Linked DNA regions of Homo sapiens. The protein of the gene in region 1 interacts with the protein of each later gene in a biochemical or structural test. Each region holds a gene or a part of one and is shown in the gene's direction. Other genes may lie near its edges.

Evidence for each region.
Region 2: the proteins of PTPRZ1 (region 1) and TNR form a complex in vitro, tested with the Homo sapiens proteins (one study listed by BioGRID).
Region 3: of the proteins of PTPRZ1 (region 1) and MGAT5B, one has a biochemical effect on the other in vitro, tested with the Homo sapiens proteins (one study listed by BioGRID).

The regions. Positions count from the first base shown.
Region 1 is NC_000007.14:122,009,140-122,016,167, forward strand, and holds part of PTPRZ1 (receptor-type tyrosine-protein phosphatase zeta isoform 1 precursor), read left to right. Parts: intron 1-1,194; coding exon 1,195-4,750; intron 4,751-7,028. UniProt on the Homo sapiens protein: Protein tyrosine phosphatase that negatively regulates oligodendrocyte precursor proliferation in the embryonic spinal cord. Required for normal differentiation of the precursor cells into mature, fully myelinating oligodendrocytes.
Region 2 is NC_000001.11:175,314,683-175,320,612, reverse strand, and holds the end of TNR (tenascin-R isoform 1 precursor), read left to right. Parts: 3' UTR 1-5,419; downstream 5,420-5,930. UniProt on the Homo sapiens protein: Neural extracellular matrix (ECM) protein involved in interactions with different cells and matrix components.
Region 3 is NC_000017.11:76,864,478-76,871,414, forward strand, and holds the start of MGAT5B (alpha-1,6-mannosylglycoprotein 6-beta-N-acetylglucosaminyltransferase B), read left to right. Parts: upstream 1-3,926; 5' UTR 3,927-4,552; coding exon 4,553-4,620; intron 4,621-6,937. UniProt on the Homo sapiens protein: Glycosyltransferase that acts on alpha-linked mannose of N-glycans and O-mannosyl glycans.

The DNA.
Region 1 (7,028 bases):
GTTGTCACTTATGCTTCAGAAGATACTCACGACCAGCCAAATAATTAAGCTGTAAATAATGAGGCAGCCATTAAGCTTGGAATCGTGTGTTTCATACAGTGCAGATTTCCGTGTGTATGACACATGCTCATGAGCACACACAGCTTAAGATTCAGATTCTTTCTACTGATACTGGTCAAGTTCTCAATGGCTGTACTCAGTAATTTTTTTCTTTTAAGGAACATGGCCTTAAAATATCTAATAGATGATCAAATAAATGACAATTCTAACAAGCTGTTGGGTACAAAGATACTGACAAAATCATGTCCCACATGAACTAAAAAAAAAAAAAAAACTTGATAACTTTGGCAATTGAGTTTTCTAAGTATATAATTAGATATAATATACCCAGTTTTATGTATATATACGTATATGTATATATATACATATATTGAATCTTCCATGCAATGAAGATTATGCTTAAAGCATAGGTCTTGGTTAACTTCTAGCTAGAAGACTAGACGTCTCCTCCTGGGTCATTGCATGGAAGATTCAGCCTCCTGAATGGTGATTCTAAGGGAAACACAAAATTAAAAAACTAGGAGTAGAATCATATATTGACAAGTTGCCTTTGAAATATCTGCCTAAGTCTTAAGTGGAAAATATTAAAAAACAAAAGGAAAAGAAAACCAAACACCTCTTTTAGTTCTAAATCTTCCCCTTATTATGACCTTAAAATTATGATTTGCTCTAAATAGATATAATTAAATATTCTGAATGTTCAACTACTTTGGTCTTTAAAATAGTTTCATCGCCAATTCTTATTACAATAAGCTAATGGCTATTTACCTTGATGCCTGATGAACAAAGAAATATAAAAACAATAAAATAAATGCCATGTTAAATAACACTGTCAATAAATAACTACAGTGTGTCTTCCTTTTAAATATGTGGTATCTATTCATTTAACCACTTCTTTCCATAGCATTAAAATAAAGGCGGCCATAAATTAGGTGTTTTCATTACGTTTAATTACTCCCCTGTAGAGCGGATGGTAAAGGTTGTAGGTTAGAGGTATGCATTGTACAGAATGGTGTTTTATGAGGATGAGAAGTTCCCAAGATACCACAAGTGATGATTGGCAGTGTAAGATATGAAGATTTTCTTTTTCTCTTATTTCCTTATGACTCATTAAATCTTGTTTGCTTTTCAAAGGAGGAGGAAGAGGGAAAAGACATTGAAGAAGGCGCTATTGTGAATCCTGGTAGAGACAGTGCTACAAACCAAATCAGGAAAAAGGAACCCCAGATTTCTACCACAACACACTACAATCGCATAGGGACGAAATACAATGAAGCCAAGACTAACCGATCCCCAACAAGAGGAAGTGAATTCTCTGGAAAGGGTGATGTTCCCAATACATCTTTAAATTCCACTTCCCAACCAGTCACTAAATTAGCCACAGAAAAAGATATTTCCTTGACTTCTCAGACTGTGACTGAACTGCCACCTCACACTGTGGAAGGTACTTCAGCCTCTTTAAATGATGGCTCTAAAACTGTTCTTAGATCTCCACATATGAACTTGTCGGGGACTGCAGAATCCTTAAATACAGTTTCTATAACAGAATATGAGGAGGAGAGTTTATTGACCAGTTTCAAGCTTGATACTGGAGCTGAAGATTCTTCAGGCTCCAGTCCCGCAACTTCTGCTATCCCATTCATCTCTGAGAACATATCCCAAGGGTATATATTTTCCTCCGAAAACCCAGAGACAATAACATATGATGTCCTTATACCAGAATCTGCTAGAAATGCTTCCGAAGATTCAACTTCATCAGGTTCAGAAGAATCACTAAAGGATCCTTCTATGGAGGGAAATGTGTGGTTTCCTAGCTCTACAGACATAACAGCACAGCCCGATGTTGGATCAGGCAGAGAGAGCTTTCTCCAGACTAATTACACTGAGATACGTGTTGATGAATCTGAGAAGACAACCAAGTCCTTTTCTGCAGGCCCAGTGATGTCACAGGGTCCCTCAGTTACAGATCTGGAAATGCCACATTATTCTACCTTTGCCTACTTCCCAACTGAGGTAACACCTCATGCTTTTACCCCATCCTCCAGACAACAGGATTTGGTCTCCACGGTCAACGTGGTATACTCGCAGACAACCCAACCGGTATACAATGGTGAGACACCTCTTCAACCTTCCTACAGTAGTGAAGTCTTTCCTCTAGTCACCCCTTTGTTGCTTGACAATCAGATCCTCAACACTACCCCTGCTGCTTCAAGTAGTGATTCGGCCTTGCATGCTACGCCTGTATTTCCCAGTGTCGATGTGTCATTTGAATCCATCCTGTCTTCCTATGATGGTGCACCTTTGCTTCCATTTTCCTCTGCTTCCTTCAGTAGTGAATTGTTTCGCCATCTGCATACAGTTTCTCAAATCCTTCCACAAGTTACTTCAGCTACCGAGAGTGATAAGGTGCCCTTGCATGCTTCTCTGCCAGTGGCTGGGGGTGATTTGCTATTAGAGCCCAGCCTTGCTCAGTATTCTGATGTGCTGTCCACTACTCATGCTGCTTCAGAGACGCTGGAATTTGGTAGTGAATCTGGTGTTCTTTATAAAACGCTTATGTTTTCTCAAGTTGAACCACCCAGCAGTGATGCCATGATGCATGCACGTTCTTCAGGGCCTGAACCTTCTTATGCCTTGTCTGATAATGAGGGCTCCCAACACATCTTCACTGTTTCTTACAGTTCTGCAATACCTGTGCATGATTCTGTGGGTGTAACTTATCAGGGTTCCTTATTTAGCGGCCCTAGCCATATACCAATACCTAAGTCTTCGTTAATAACCCCAACTGCATCATTACTGCAGCCTACTCATGCCCTCTCTGGTGATGGGGAATGGTCTGGAGCCTCTTCTGATAGTGAATTTCTTTTACCTGACACAGATGGGCTGACAGCCCTTAACATTTCTTCACCTGTTTCTGTAGCTGAATTTACATATACAACATCTGTGTTTGGTGATGATAATAAGGCGCTTTCTAAAAGTGAAATAATATATGGAAATGAGACTGAACTGCAAATTCCTTCTTTCAATGAGATGGTTTACCCTTCTGAAAGCACAGTCATGCCCAACATGTATGATAATGTAAATAAGTTGAATGCGTCTTTACAAGAAACCTCTGTTTCCATTTCTAGCACCAAGGGCATGTTTCCAGGGTCCCTTGCTCATACCACCACTAAGGTTTTTGATCATGAGATTAGTCAAGTTCCAGAAAATAACTTTTCAGTTCAACCTACACATACTGTCTCTCAAGCATCTGGTGACACTTCGCTTAAACCTGTGCTTAGTGCAAACTCAGAGCCAGCATCCTCTGACCCTGCTTCTAGTGAAATGTTATCTCCTTCAACTCAGCTCTTATTTTATGAGACCTCAGCTTCTTTTAGTACTGAAGTATTGCTACAACCTTCCTTTCAGGCTTCTGATGTTGACACCTTGCTTAAAACTGTTCTTCCAGCTGTGCCCAGTGATCCAATATTGGTTGAAACCCCCAAAGTTGATAAAATTAGTTCTACAATGTTGCATCTCATTGTATCAAATTCTGCTTCAAGTGAAAACATGCTGCACTCTACATCTGTACCAGTTTTTGATGTGTCGCCTACTTCTCATATGCACTCTGCTTCACTTCAAGGTTTGACCATTTCCTATGCAAGTGAGAAATATGAACCAGTTTTGTTAAAAAGTGAAAGTTCCCACCAAGTGGTACCTTCTTTGTACAGTAATGATGAGTTGTTCCAAACGGCCAATTTGGAGATTAACCAGGCCCATCCCCCAAAAGGAAGGCATGTATTTGCTACACCTGTTTTATCAATTGATGAACCATTAAATACACTAATAAATAAGCTTATACATTCCGATGAAATTTTAACCTCCACCAAAAGTTCTGTTACTGGTAAGGTATTTGCTGGTATTCCAACAGTTGCTTCTGATACATTTGTATCTACTGATCATTCTGTTCCTATAGGAAATGGGCATGTTGCCATTACAGCTGTTTCTCCCCACAGAGATGGTTCTGTAACCTCAACAAAGTTGCTGTTTCCTTCTAAGGCAACTTCTGAGCTGAGTCATAGTGCCAAATCTGATGCCGGTTTAGTGGGTGGTGGTGAAGATGGTGACACTGATGATGATGGTGATGATGATGATGATGACAGAGGTAGTGATGGCTTATCCATTCATAAGTGTATGTCATGCTCATCCTATAGAGAATCACAGGAAAAGGTAATGAATGATTCAGACACCCACGAAAACAGTCTTATGGATCAGAATAATCCAATCTCATACTCACTATCTGAGAATTCTGAAGAAGATAATAGAGTCACAAGTGTATCCTCAGACAGTCAAACTGGTATGGACAGAAGTCCTGGTAAATCACCATCAGCAAATGGGCTATCCCAAAAGCACAATGATGGAAAAGAGGAAAATGACATTCAGACTGGTAGTGCTCTGCTTCCTCTCAGCCCTGAATCTAAAGCATGGGCAGTTCTGACAAGTGATGAAGAAAGTGGATCAGGGCAAGGTACCTCAGATAGCCTTAATGAGAATGAGACTTCCACAGATTTCAGTTTTGCAGACACTAATGAAAAAGATGCTGATGGGATCCTGGCAGCAGGTGACTCAGAAATAACTCCTGGATTCCCACAGTCCCCAACATCATCTGTTACTAGCGAGAACTCAGAAGTGTTCCACGTTTCAGAGGCAGGTTAGTTACGGATCAGAAGGACAGATTGAGGTGTGGTGGTTTGCTTGCTCTAAAAGTAAAATGAAAATTATAGAAAGATAGAAATTTGGTAAAATGGTACATCATCATTTTTAAAATCAAAACATTCAACAAATCAGTCTCCAGTTTCTGAAGTATAATTTTATTTATTATTTCAAACAATTATTTAACACATTTTGGTTTTTAATTTAATTCTCTCCAAAATAGACAAAACAATTTTTATTTATTGTCAATATTTCATACTCTACAGGATGTCTTTTATGGGTGGGGGCAATTCTGTTTGCATAATACATTTTTAGTACACTGCTTTTAAAGCAAGATCAGAGTATGCTATTTTAGATGATTTTAATTTTCATACTTTTGTTCTAAAATAAGTTGTAAACTAATTCTATTTAATTATAAAATGAATTATTAAATCTGAGAGTAATGTGACATAAGCACTTCTCTCTGACACACCCCTGTAGAAAGGAATTAGTTAATTTCCACATTCATATCAGCTTGGGGAGCTTTATTTATTATTATTATTTAATTAATTAATTAATTAATTTTGAGACGGAGTCTCGCTCTGTCGCCCAGGCTGGAGTGCAGTGGTGCAATCTCGGCTTACTACAAGCTCCGCCTCCCAGGTTCACGCCATTCTCCTGCCTCAGCCTCCCGAGTAGCTGAGACTACAGGCGCCCACCACCACGCCAGGCTAATTTTGTGTATTTTTAGTAAAGACGGGGTTTCACCATGTTAGCCAGGATGGTCTTGATCTCCTGACCTCGTGATCCACCCGCCTCGGCCTCCCAAAATGTTGGGATTACAGGCGTGAGCCACTGCACCAGGCCAGGGAGGTATTTATGTATTTATTTATTTATTTAGTTTTATTACTAAGTTTTGAGAGTTAATAATGAAGTTAAAAAAAATTTTAATTTTTTTGTCTTTCTTTATCTTAATGTTGCCTAAAGAGGGCAGTGTAAACCATCAAAATACATTTTACTTTATGCCTGCTGTTACACACTTTTTTAAGTTAAATAATGGGCATTAATATGTACAGTATGTATAGGTATTGTATCACAAGATGTAAAACACTAAACATTTTTCTGTAGAAATGAATTTCATTTGTGAATGTATTTTATGCAAATTAGCTTACTGACCAGATGTTTCTTAGAGCAGATTATGTGCAGTGTTTATAATACAGATGTCTGCTTTAAATGCCAATGGAAAGAAGAGGGAAGTTCAATCCTATTAAGTATAGAAAAGTAATACTTTCATTGAATTGGTCATAAGAATTTTATAATTTGCTTTTATTAAATGTGAACGTATCTTAAAGTTTAATAATGAAACTATTTAAATCTTAACATCAAGTTAAATGATAGGCTAATGTAACAAAATGCACTCATTGTATAAAAGTGAATATTTGTAATCCAGAACATAGACATCAGTCTCATTAGAATATTTTTCCTCTTTGCGATTTCATCTTTTTAATTAGTTGTATATTTTTTCTTCAGTGCAGCAGCAATTAAAAGTTTGTACATTTTGATAGAAAACTTTTTCTGTATTCTGAATTGATACCTATTTAACATTGCATTTTAAACACTTAAATGCTGATATGTGAGAATGAATAATGAATCCATAGGTCACTATAGTCATTAGTGCTGTCATATATATGAACTGTTATCTGTTCTCAATTATAGTAGCTGCTTTTTAGTTTTCATTAGATTTATGTTAAAAGAAAATATCAGGAATCCATCTATCTGTCTTACCAGGTAGTGACATTGATACGTTCTTGCTAGACTATGCTATTATAGAAGGATATATATAATGAGATGCTAAACCTAAAATTATTGACTAAAGCTTAGCAAATTTCTCTTCAGTGCACTAATTAGTTTTATTTAATTATCAAGAGTGTGTTCTCCCACTAATTAGGATAAAACAATATGAATATGACATCCAACATTATCAAGTAACATAATTAGTGAAGTAAATAAGATCAAACAAGATTAGGGGAAAATTCTGGCCTATTTTTAAAACTGTATCTATAAAATCATATGTAATCTGTCTTATCCAATAATTGAATATATCCCTTTATCAAATGCATGCAGACTAGCTCTGAAACTTAAGATTTTATGGTGTATTTCTAGAATGCAGAACAATTTACAGGATGTGTTCTTTAAAATACTATAGATAAGGCAAATATTAGTATCCACAATTTATAAATGAGTACACTGACACCCAAAGATACTAGATTATTTGATCCAGGTCACATGAGTAAATA
Region 2 (5,930 bases), on another chromosome or scaffold:
CAGCACGCCCACTTCATCAAGGAAGTTGAAATGGAAAAAGATTATGTGTTGTCAATTCAGGTGAAAGTCAAGAAACATCAGTGGAAACAAAAATCTTCCTTTTATTGAAACCATTCTACACTATGGAACATTTTTATAAATAGTACCAGCGGCATTGCATAGCTTTATTTTGAAGCAAGAAAGAGACTTCAAAGATCAGCTTATTCAACCCTCTATAAAAGGATTTATAGATTCCTTTTATTTAATAGGGTGATTTTCTCATGAGTTTTCACCATGTTTAAAAGACACTGTGCCCCACTCTCATCCCAAGGTCTATGGTCAACTTGACTCAATGCTCATAACTTTCCTCGCTGATTCCTGCTTATCCTGCTCCTCCAAGCACAACTGCATTTCCCAAAGGTAGATCCAGTAAGCAATACTCTCAAAGCACCCACCCTATGCACACCAGTTTCCCTCAAGGGACTCAAAAGGAATCGAGGTAGACCCTTCTCAGAGGCTGTTTAACTACAGACACATCAGGATATGTACTAATACCCAAAACCAAAACCACCACCAATGACTGCAATAGATTCACTGTCTAGACCCAAGGTCCAGGCAGTTTCCCTTTTTTGCATTTCCCCAACATATAAAGATAATTTCCAACATATCAGATGCACATTCACCAGGGTTATTTCTGGAAGGTGAAGGGGTCAGGTGTAGAAGAGGTGGCAAGAATGACAAGTCTGTGGAAAACTGTTGGCCTTGAGACCACAGTGAACTGGTGGAAGGGGACTTGCTAAGTGTGGCCACAAGGTGGCAGTCACCTCCTGAAACCCCGTGTGAAACGTCAGCGGGGTTGAGAAAGGCCACGTCTCCAAGTTTCCAGGAGAGCCAAACCAGGACTCAGGAAAACCGGCCAGCTGATTTGTATGGGAGATTGATTTGTAAAAGAACAACAACAACATATGGCAGCAAGGAAATGCAAAGCAAACATCTACAAATATTTGAATCCACCTGTCCCTCACCTACCAACTTCCCCCTCTACTACTCATAAAGTGGTAGGACTCCTAATGCCCCGCTTCCTTCCACCTGAGAACCAACCAGCACCCTGATATTTCAAAGCCAGACCTAAAGAACCATGGTTGCCAATAACCTCAATGCCAAACCAAACAATCCTAATCACATTTTTACTTTTCAAATCCAGTCTCAGAGCAGAGCTGTAGATTAAGGGACAAAAAGTCATTGTGGAATCTTTTCAAATAGCTCTTGTAAAAGCATCAGTTGGGAAAGAGTTTATGAGTTCCTCTTTGTCCTCTCCTCTGGAGAAAAGACAGAACATGCAAGAACACTAGATACACCAAGCTATGGGTGTTGAAATAGACTAGCTGGTGACCTGGATTTGCAAATACCCTAGGGACATGAAAACATTTTTTCTTTTTCTTTTTCTTTTTTGTAACCTCCACCCAGAATTTCAGGAAAGGTGGGGCCACATGCCCAGGATATATGGTATTCTACTGCTTGCTTTCTTATCACCAGAATACTAGTCAATCTGATTTCTTAGTTCCATGTCTTTTCTTCCAAGGAGGTAGGGCATGGGGTTGGGGGACACTTTCCGCCTTCCTTGCATCTCACTGTCCACTCTTAAATTTTTATTAAGAAACCTCTGAAAGATTCAAAATTCAGTTCAGTTTCAATAATCCCAAAGAAGTTGGGATAATTTGTTTTCACTTGCTTCAAACTTGCCACGGCTGCAGGAGGAGTCTCAGGACCTCAGAGGAATGGGGCAGATGTGTGAAGTCTGGGAGTCTGCCTCCCACCCAGATGCCAGGAGCTGCATACTCAGCTCTGCCTCACTTCCCTGATGGTCTGCTTTCATCCAGGTTACCATGACAGAGAGGGTCTATCCTCTAAAGAAAGCTGAGTTACAGGCTGGCCCCTGGGGTTGTTCCTGTAGCCTCTCTTTGACCACATTCCTGAAGATGTTTAGCTGAATGCCTCCTCAAACCTTTGCTTCTTCCATAACCCAATCCTACACATATGTGATAAAGCTTTCTTCAACAATACTGGGTCATTTGGACACTACCAGTCCAGATGAGAACTCACAGACCAAATGAAAACTTTCAAAAGCAAGCAGGGAAAGTAACTCCTATATGCTTTAAGATGATGTATTGGTGTAGATTCAGGTCCAATTTGAAAAAATGTCTCTGGTTCTTTCTAATTGTATCCACTCTGGATTTGTTTATGCCAGTTCTACATTCATCAAGCCTTGAGAAACAGGTGGAAAGAAGAAAAATATAAAATTAAGAAGAAGCTGATGGATCATTGGAGATTCAAAACAAGCCTTCTACCGGTGGCACCACACTGAAAGGCAGAGACAAGGCAGGAGCGGCCATGGGAGAGGAAGCAGCATTGGCTTCTCACGTTCTGGCCTCCAGCCTCCCACCAGAGCTTCTGCCATTCACCCACTTAACTTGAGGAGAAACTAAGGCACCAAGGCCTGTCACTGCACCGAAAACCAGAAGCAGAAGGACTTTCTTTCTTTGCTCAACCAGTTCTGCCTGGATCTGACTTTTGCGTCACCAGTAGTCACAAGCCTGATTTGTCATCTCCAGCATTCTGTTTATTTTTTTAAGGTCAATCTTTGCCTGAAACATGACTTCATTGCACCTGCAGCACTTCATTGTCCAAATGTCCTTGGCAAACCTCACAGTCTTTGGACAGTGTTGCATTTTCTCCAAAGGGGAAATCCTCTCTCCTTCCTCAAGCTTAATAAGGCTCTTGCAGTGCATCCAAATAACACAGCTCTTGTTCCTCAGACACACTCAGCCCCCTCTGATAACTTCATAAAACAGCTCCTTATTGTCTGGGCCATGAAGCCAGGCTAATGCTAAAGTTCCAGTTCAAAAACATTTAACTCTATTATCCTTATGAGGCCAGCTCTCCTGGGTACTGGCACTCACTCACTGGCACCATGGATTCAGGTCAGGTGGTGCAAACATCTTCCCTGAGAAGCAAGCCATACACCCAACAGGTCTAGAACACCTAGGTCACAAGAAAGGGTTTCAGTCCAGATGCACTGTCAGTAAGTGAACACAAGGACAAGAATGCATGAACTGTTATTTTCTTCCCATCACTGGTTTAGCAGCCCCTAGGGAGACCCTGTGTTGCTCTTTAATATTCTGACATGGAGCACTAATATGCTCAACACTGCCTCCAACAGGCAAATGTTGGAAATACACTTTCAGAGCTGGATGGGACTCAAGATCATCTAATATAATCCTCTCATTTTATTTCCTCTCAAGGAAACCAAGGGCAAGAAAGTTTAGGCAATTTGCTCACATTCACACAGGCAATTAGTAACAGAGCTGAGTTCGGGTCTGGTATAGGCTTTTTAATTTGATTCTCCACAAATGAACACTAAGATAAATAGCATTTATTGCATACCCACTATTTACCAGATACTGTGCAAAGGGCTTTACATATATTACTTTACTAAATCCTCACCATAAACTTTAAGTCAGGTTTAACCATTTTATAGAAGAGGGAAGGGAGGGCCAGGAAGGTTAAGTAACATGCTCAAAGTCACACAGCTACTAAATAGAGCCATAATCTGAACCTTTGTCTAATTTTGAAGCCCTTGATTTTTCCACTTCATGAGGCTGCTCTTTATATTTATTTAGCTGAGTGACCACCATCTTGGATTTTACTAATATTCTTACAAGGGGGCTTTGATGCCACTTCTTCTGACTTTTAAGAAAAGGAAATTCTTGCATTATTTTTGCCATGTACTCCAGGGGACCCTCAATCTCATCATCATGGGGAATAAGAAACATTCTGACATCTCTTTCCTTTTCTTTCTTTTTAAATTTGGTAGACGAGGGAGAGGGTCCCCAACAGAATGAGAGGGGGAAGATAAGAACCAGAACATAAACCCAATACCCCCCACCCCACTCTTTTGGGAACATCCCAACATTAGAAGAGTGGGATATCCAGTCATTTTTTTCAAGCTGGAGCAGGCAGTGTAGCCAGGATTGAGGAAGGAGAAGCCACAGAATAAACATGGCACATGTTCTCAGAGCATCAATTTTACTCCAGAATTTGGGAAGAAAGGATTATATTATTAGTGTATTCAAACCAGTATGGATAGCACAAATGCAGATATCCTATAAATTTTGAGGCTAACTCCAGCAGGTTGTAGACTGATTTAGGCTACCTCCTTCCAGACTCCCAGGGGTACAAACACCTTCACAGTCCCCTGCGGGAGTACATCAGTGGAAATATTTGGGGAATGAGGCTAGAAGGCAGGAGATACATTCAGTTTACTTATCCCCCTGGTTTCTTTTCCCCACTCCTTACCTGCCCCACATCCCTAGTGGGTGGGAAGGCATCAGAAGACAGTTGGCTACAATATCAGCTTTCTCTGCTACTTTGGGGAATTTAGAAGGAAATCAGTACTTGGCAACCTGGTATTTTTAGCTGCCAGGCCAAAACTCCAGACATAAACCCCTTCCCTTTAATTGAATGATGTTTATATATAAAGGAATAGATCTCCCCAAGAAAGAACCCCAGAACACTGGTTCCATTCCAGTGTGGGGGCTGCTTGGGCAGCAGTGACACCTGTGCATTAGATGCAATAGACACTTCAATTCCTGCAAAAATGTCGGCCAACTAAGTGCTCCTTTACCAACTGCGGAGGCCCAGACTCACACCATGGTCCCACAGACTCAAGGTTTAGAATCTATGTGAGTCTATTTTGGTTAACACACAGGCTCCTCCTTCCAATCATTCACACACACACACACACACACACACACACACACATGCACACACACACATGCATGCACACATACACAGGTGCACATGCACAAACACACACATCTAATGATTCCAACCTCGAATACTCCCCAGGCCCATGGGGATGCCCAAGTACCCTAAGCAAATCACTGTGACACTGAGGGGGTCATTAACTGGGGCTCCGAGCAGCTGAAACCCACCCTGGTGGTCTCTAGATTGTTGTTCTGAGAAATCATAAACACCAAATCCTCCAATCCCTTTGAATTTGAGTTTGTCATTTTAACCTTTAACAGCCTTTTCAGGTAAAAATAACAAAGACCAATTTATTGACTTTGTAGCTACAATGAGCTTGAAAAAGCGCTTACTTAAAAGAAAGACTGGAAGGAAGAAAAAAAAAAGAAAATGGAGTACATACTCCTCAGACGATGCACACTTTAATTAGCTAAAATAAAAATAAAAATGTACAGAGGAAGGGAGAGGAAAAACCAACTTCTCTGATCCTTTCATGGCACTGTAGCTCAAAGACTGGAATCTCTGCTTGTTAACCATTGTTAACTAGTATTTTTAGTCCTGGTTGCTTTTAGCCTCTGTATAGTTCCTTTTTTAAACACATTTTCTATACGTTAATAAAAGATCCTGAAAGAAAGATGCGTGTCTTCTGAGTCCTAGGGGCACTGGGGGGCATGCCTGTCTTAAGAATGGGCCTGGCTTCTTTTCTCTGGGCCTCCCCTCCTTAACATTTCAGTCCTGCTTCTGCCAGCCCATCTTCTCCGCATCACCCTTTGGGTGGACTGTTCTCCCCCATGGCCCTGCTCCCCCTTCTATGCCCCTTGTCCGCCCTGTTTCTGTGCTTTCATTATATCCTAAATATCTCAGCCCCCTTCCTCATTCTTCCCTCCTTCTTCTCTCCTCTTTTCTACTCTCCTGCTTCTCTCCTCTCTTCTACTCTCCTGCTTCTCTCCTCTCTTTGCATCTTTCTCTCTCTCTTTGCATCTTTCTCTCTCTCTTCCTTTCTCTTTCTTCCCTACCTTCCACCCACTTTGAGGAATCGTAAACACCAAATCCTCCAAACCCTCTGAATTTTATTTTGTCATTTTAACCTTTAACAGCCTTTTCAGGTAAAAACACCAATTTCATCTCACCCTTTGCTTTTACCA
Region 3 (6,937 bases), on another chromosome or scaffold:
TTGGTCAGGCTAGTCTCGAACTCCTGACCTCATGATCTGCCCACCTCGGCCTCCTAAAGTGCTGGGATTATAGGCGTGAGCCACCGCACCTGGCTTTTTTTTTTTTTTTTTTTTTTTTTGAGACGGAGTCTTGCACTGTGGTCCAGGCTAGAGTGCAGTGGTGTGATCTCAGCTCACTGCAGCCTCCATCTCCCAGGTTCAAGCGATTCTCCTGCCTCAGTCTCCTGAGTAGCTGGGATTACAGTCACCCGCCACCAGACCCAACTAATTTTTTGTATTTTTAGTAGAGACGGGGTTTCACTATGTTAGCCAGGCTGGTCTCGAATGCCTGACCTTGTGATCCACTCGCCTTGGCCTCCCAAAGTGGTGAGATTACAGGCATGAGCCACCGCGCCCTGCCAGGAACTGCTATATTTAGGGCACCCGGGTGAATGTGCATCCTGCTCTGCATTTGGCTGGTTGTGGGTCTGTTGATAGCTTCAGGAGAGAAACAGTGAAGAGGGATGGGGTTTGGAAATGGGTACACCTGATGTCAGTCCTTATTTATTTATTATTTTATAAGAGACAGGGCGTCGCACTGTCACACAGGCTGGAGTGCGGTGGTGCGCTCATAGCTTACTGCGGCCTCGATCTCCTGGGCTCAAGTGATCCTCCTGCCTCAGCTTCCTGCGTAGCTGGGACTACAGGTGCATGACACCACACCTGGATAAGTTTTAAAGTTTTTGGTAGAGATGGGGTCTCACTATGTTGCTCAGGCTGGTTGTCTCAAGCTCTTGGCTTAGGCATTCCTTCTGCCTTAGACTCCCAAAGTGCTGGGATTACGGGCGTGAGTCACGGCGCCTGGCCCACCGTCAGTCCTTGGCCGGGCCCTGCAGCAGGTGCCGCCGTTCCTACTCCCCTGTTCTCTGGCTTGCTTCCAGAGACTTTCCTTTCTCCTCAGGAGGCCACAAGTATTTGTCTAGAACAGTGCTTCCCCACCTTGCCTGTGTCGGCATAACCTGTGGCATCAATGCACCAGCGTGCCCAGGCTGCACCTCAGGTACTGGATCAGAATAAGGACAATTTTGCTAAATTCTGCAGGTGATTCTGCTGGAATCTGGGCTGAGAACCACCAGTCGATGAGGCAGGATCTTGGGATCTTGGTGTGGGTCCCCCAGAAACAGATGCTCAGAATAGGATTCTGCAAGTGGTTTATTTGGATGGTGACCCCAGGAACATTGACCGGGGAGTGGAATGAGACAGGAGGGAAGGGAGTGAACACAGGGGCATCACAGGGCTGGCTACACCACGGGTGACTGGAGCTCAAACTTGCTGGGAACCTGGGGAGCCACGGGGTAACACGCCGCGGAGTATCCCCCTTAGGAAGAGGGAGTGGGGGTGTCTATCCACTGCTTGAGGGCTGCTGCCAGGGTGTTGATCCTTTGTCCAGGGTCCTTTCTTCTTGCCCTTTTGTGTTCTAGCATATTCCCACAGCCATTAAAAAAAAGTCCTCAGGCAGAGAGTTGAAGGTGTTCTCAGTCATCTGCCTCTTAGCTTGCAGAGGTGACTGCAGTGGGAACCAGGACTGGGCACAAACAGCATCTGTTCCTGACGGACAGTAACAACCATCAGAACCACCATGCTTGAAAGGCTCAGGAGGTCCTGGCAACGGGCTACTTACCTGCATTAAGCGGCTCAATCCTCAGAACAGCTCTATGAAGCAGGTTATAAGGAGCCCCACTTATAGTTGAGGAAACTGAGGCATGAAGAGGTTATACCCAAGACTGCATGATGTGGGATTCACAGTTTTTCTCCTAATGCCTACAGCACAGTGGAGAGCAAGCAGGACTGTTTACACTGAACTTTACTGCAGACAAGAGGCCAAAAAAAGGGGACAGACTTCAAAAGGGACAGGCAGCTGGACAATCTGGCTTGCAAAATGCCACTGGCTGGCCCAGCATAGTGGCTCATGCCTGTAATACCAGCACTTTGGGAGGCCGAGGCAAGCGGATCACTTGAGGTCAGGAGTTTGAGAGCAGCCTGGCCAACATGGCGAAACCTGTCTCTACTAAAAATACAAAAATTTTGCATTTTTATAGGCATTTATTACAGGTATCGTGGCACGTGCCTGTAATCCCAGCTACTCAAGAGGCTGAGGCAGAAGAATCTCTTGAACCCAAAAGGCGGAGTTTGCAGTGAGCCGAGATTGCGCCACTGTACTCCAGCCTGGGAAACAGAGCGAGACTCCATCTCAAAAAAAAAAAAAAAAAAAAAAAAAAGTCACTGGCTGTCCTCTGCTTGCTTCCCTCCCTGGCCCAAGCCAGCCGTCAAATGGCAGAGAGGCTTTCCCGCTCCAACTTCAAAGTCCAGATCTAAGGGTGTGTGGCCCAGGGGAAGAGGGGAGTACCTTCCCCTACCTTCTAAATTCTGGCTTCTGTGGAGGGTAGGCCACCTCCCCAGATGACCCACACCAGAGGTGGCCATGCCTTCTAGGGAACCCCATCTCCACCACTGAGGAAGAGGCTTCCCCTTTGGCCTAAAATGGCAACCAGATATAAATGCCACCCCCTAAGCCTACTCAATCAGAAGAACCCCCAATCAGAAGAGAGACACCTAATCAGAAGGACCATTTCATTCCTTAGTGTAGATATGGCTTATTGCCAGGATTTGTGGCAGATGTAGGCACCCAGGCATGAGATGTGATTTACAGGCCTGGCAGAGACCTCTGCCCTCCAACATCTCCTTAGCCAGCCTGCCACGATGCCCAAATTTCCGGCCACCATTCATCACTCTTCTGCACAAAGGCACGGTCAGCATGTCCTTGTTCAATGCAAATTTGTTACCTAGCCTGTGTAACACATTATATCTGCTAACACCAATTTATCACCCATTTTCACATTAGCAGAGAGCAAGGCAGTGAGATAATGGAACTCAGCACCGGTAAATTTTGATGAAGAAGGAGCAGCAAAGCAGAGAGCGTGAGTCATGGCCAGTGAGTAATGGCCCAGGAAGGGGGCCGGGAGGTGGGCAGGGCAGGCAGCAAGGGGCCTGGGTATGGGGGATTGGAGGGGACCAGGCCCAGCTGGAGGAAAATAAAGTCTCCTCCTCGCATAAGCCAGGCTGCAGCATCGTGGCCTGAGCTGGGAAGACCCTCAGAGTCATTTGACACATGACTGAGGCTTTGGGCACTTCCCAGGGTGGGGTGGTCAGATATGACCTCGGGAAGTGCTTTTGAAGCCGGAGAGCTTTCTTCAGGCTGGCTCTGCGAGCTCCCAGGAGTCTCTGTCTCTGCAACTGCAAACACATCTCCAGAGCCAGGAAGTACGAGGAGGGGGAGGGGAGGACGCCTAGATGCTAAGAGACGACATGAGATCCTACATGCTTTAGGGTTGCAAGGGACCTTGGTGAGCTTCTGGTCACTATCATTTCATAATGGAGACTCTGAGACGTGCACACTTGATCGCCCACTGGCTAGTGGAGGATCTGGGGCTACAACTCAGTACGCCCCTGCGCCTGGCTCTGTGAGCGGGCCCCAGCACCACAGGCCGAGTTTATACTCAGATCAGTAAGCAAAGAGGAGCCACGGGAGTTTCTGACCAGGGAGGGGCAGAAGATAGGCATGTGTTGCCAAGCGAAATCGTGGGAAGCGGCTGATGAGGAAGCCCACGGAGGCACCTGGCAGAAGAGAAGGGTCTCCGCTGGGTGCGCATCTCTTCTGTGCTCTGCGGGAGCCAAAGCAGCTTTCGGCCCTCGGGGCTGGTGGCGCCCTGGGAAGCTGCTTGGCTCAGGGGAAGGAGCAGGGACCCCCGCCCGCCCGTCCTCGAAGCTGGTCCTCGGCGTCCCAGCCCCGCACGGCCCCGGGCAGGGCGCACAGCGGGGCTGCGGCCACGAGGTGGCGCCGGCGCGCCTTGGAAGCGCAGCTGCAGCTCCCGGGCCGCCCCAGCGCCGCTCGGCCGCCTCCTCCGAGGAACAATGCGGCGCCTCCGGGCGTAGCGTCGCGCGGGGCCGGACGCCGGACACCAGAGCGCGGGCGGCGGAGCCAGCGGGCGAGAGAGCGCGCGGCGGGCGCGGGTTGCCCTCGTCGAGAGCCATGGGCGCGGCGCGGCGCGGGGCTGAGGATCGGCGCGGCCCGGAGGCGCTGGGGACCGGGGCGCGGGCCCGGGGCCGCCTTTAGCCGGCACCGAGGGCGCGGGGCCGGGGATGAGGGCGCCCGCCGCGGGGAGCCCGTCTGCGCGCCGCGGCACCTTCCCGCCCAGCGAGCGAGCCCGAGCAGGCAGACGCGCGGCCGGCGGTCTGGGGGCGCGCCGCCTCCCGGTCCCCAAAATGTGAAGCGGGGAGGGCGGAGACGCAGAGACGGCCCGGCCGGGCGCCCTCGCCGCCCTCCGGCAGCCGCGCCGCTCCCTCCGCTGCACGCCCAGGCCTGAGCAGCGAGGCCACCGGGCCGCGCGCTCCCAGCTTCGCTCGGACGCGGCTTCGGCCCGCAGAGGGTTCGTGGCCCGGACGCGGCGAGAGCTGGGCCCAGGACGGTGCGTCCGGCCTCGCCCGCGGCTGCTCGCACCAACAAGTTTGAACAATGATCACCGTCAACCCCGATGGGAAGATAATGGTCAGAAGATGCCTGGTCACCCTGAGACCCTTTCGGTAAAGTTCCCTCCTGGTTGGTTTTTTCCCCAGGGGGGCGCCGGGTGGAGGTGGGCGAGGTCGGTTCCTGCGAACGTTCAAGTCCTGGTGGCAGAGGGGGCGGTTCACACTTCAACCCCTGGTGATGACCAGTGGGGCTGGGCTGGGGGAACGGATGGCGTTGGGGTTCGGGGTGCGGATGGGGAGGGTTGTGTTATTCGGGGACCTGTCCCGAGTTGGGCAGGGTTGGAGAGGACTCGGGGTGCAGAGGTAAGAATGGGGGCAGAAAACCCCCAGGTCGTGGTCCTGGGCCCAGAAAGTTGCCCCAGCCTGCGCGCCCCTTCCCAGCCCCTCAGGGTCCTTCCTCACCCCGCGGACGGTCCCATCCGGGTGGCAAAGTTAGTGTGCGGCGCCTTGGAGCTCCCCCTCCGGTCCCTCCCGTCCCGCCCGTCTGCCCCTAGGTCGGCTACCCCCCAACCCCTCCGCCTGTGCCACCCTCTCCCCAGCCTTTGGTGGCACTGCTCTCCTCCCCGCGGGGCTCGGGCCTGGCTCCGACGAGAGGGTCCCGAGATTAGAGCGAGGACTCGCTCATCCCAGGATTCGCCCCCGATCGCAGGCGTCGGAGAGGCGGGGGCAGGGGCGGCGCTGCAGGGCTACGGGGCGGCTGGAGCCGAGGCTGCGGCGGAGCGTGGTGGGCGGGCGGTGGCGAAGGCGACACGCTTCGGGCGGCCAACACCTGGGGGCCCAGGCCAGGCAGGGCTGGGGCCGCGCGGGACTCACTGGACCCAGCCAGGGGCCCCCAGGGCCCAGCGGTGCCGGGGCAGCCCCCTCTCCTCCCAGGCATCCGCGGAACCGGCCCGCAGCGGGGTGGGGAGGGGGCGCTGCCCAGTGGACGCCCGGCGGGGCCCGAGTGTCACCCCGTGGGTAGCTGGGCAGCGAGGAAGCTGGGGGAGTGACCGCCCCGGCGCGGGGGCCGGACTCGGGACGTGGCCACAGGTGGGCTCCGGGCGCGGGAAGGAGCCCGAGAAGGCGGAGCTTGCAGGGGCCCTGAACTCTTGCCCTCCAGGTCTCGGCCCAGCCCCACTGTGGTCCCCCTGCCGGCTCCAGACGGGGATGGGGGCGGGGAGACGGTGGCTCACCTGGAGCCCGCCTCCCAGCACACCGGGCCTGTCTGCTGGGCCGAGGAGGCAACCCCAGGGGACGGCAGGGGTCAGGCTGGACCTCTGCGGTCCGGGGGTCCGGGAGGCCCGGAGAGCTGGTGCAGGCCGTGGGTGGTGATGGGGGCGTCGGGAGCCCATGGGAAGCAGGGCGGGAAGCAGGCGTCTCTGGAAAGGGCCTTGCTCCTCCAGGGAAGGCCTTGAATCCCTGGCCTGACTGGGAACGCTGGAGGGTCCTCGCCCCTTCCGACCCCATCCCTGTCCCGCCCTCCGGGCCGCTGGGTGTTTCCTGGCGCGATTGGAAGCAGCCGCGAGACCCCAGCACCACGGACAGTGCTCGCGACCCAGGGCTGCTTCCCTGTCTGGTCCTGCCCTGGTTTTCTTTCAGGCCCTTATCTGAAGGCAGGATTGGGGGTGGAGGTGCATGGGTCCCCAAAGTTGTGTAACTTCACCCCAGGGTCTCCCTGGGCTGCCCGGAGACCCGCAGCCATCAGTGAGTCCCTTCAGTTGAGGTGGGGGGCAGGCTGCAATCATAGCACCCCAGCTTATTCATCCTCAAAGGCAGGCTGGGGTCCTGTTCCCTGTGGTTTTCCCAGGGCTGCTGGCAGGGTCTTTATTCCATAGGTGCCCCTGGAATGTTGCTTGAGTGGATACATGGATGGCTGAAGCCATTTTAACTTGAATCCACTCCAAATGGCCCCCAGCTGCCTTGGGGGACATTGAACCCCAGGATGGGGTTCTGGCAGAGGGAGATGCAGATGAGGTGTGTTAGGGGGCTTCAGGTTCTGGGCTGAAGGGGGTAGACACCTTTCTCATAGCAGGGTTGTTGGATCCTGGCAGGCAGCCCAGGTCCCCAGCTCTAAATACAACTCCTTCACTCCCCTGGCCTCTTCTCCAGGGACTAGAGACATGAGTGGGGGAAGTCCGTCCTTGTCCTCAGACTGGGAGGACAAATAGCTGATTTCCCCTGGGATCTCCCTGAGCATGGGACAGCACCTCTCCTGTGCCATGGCCGTGGCTGTTGTCTCCAGAGCCACCTGACTTCCTCTGAGGGACCCCAAGATCTGAGCCCCACCCCCAGGCTTGGTGGAATTCCGTGAGGCGTCCCTCTGCGCTAAGGAAAGTGTCCCTTGCGCGGTCTTGCCTACTGAATCATGTCTCCTGTCCTTCCTGCTGGGGGT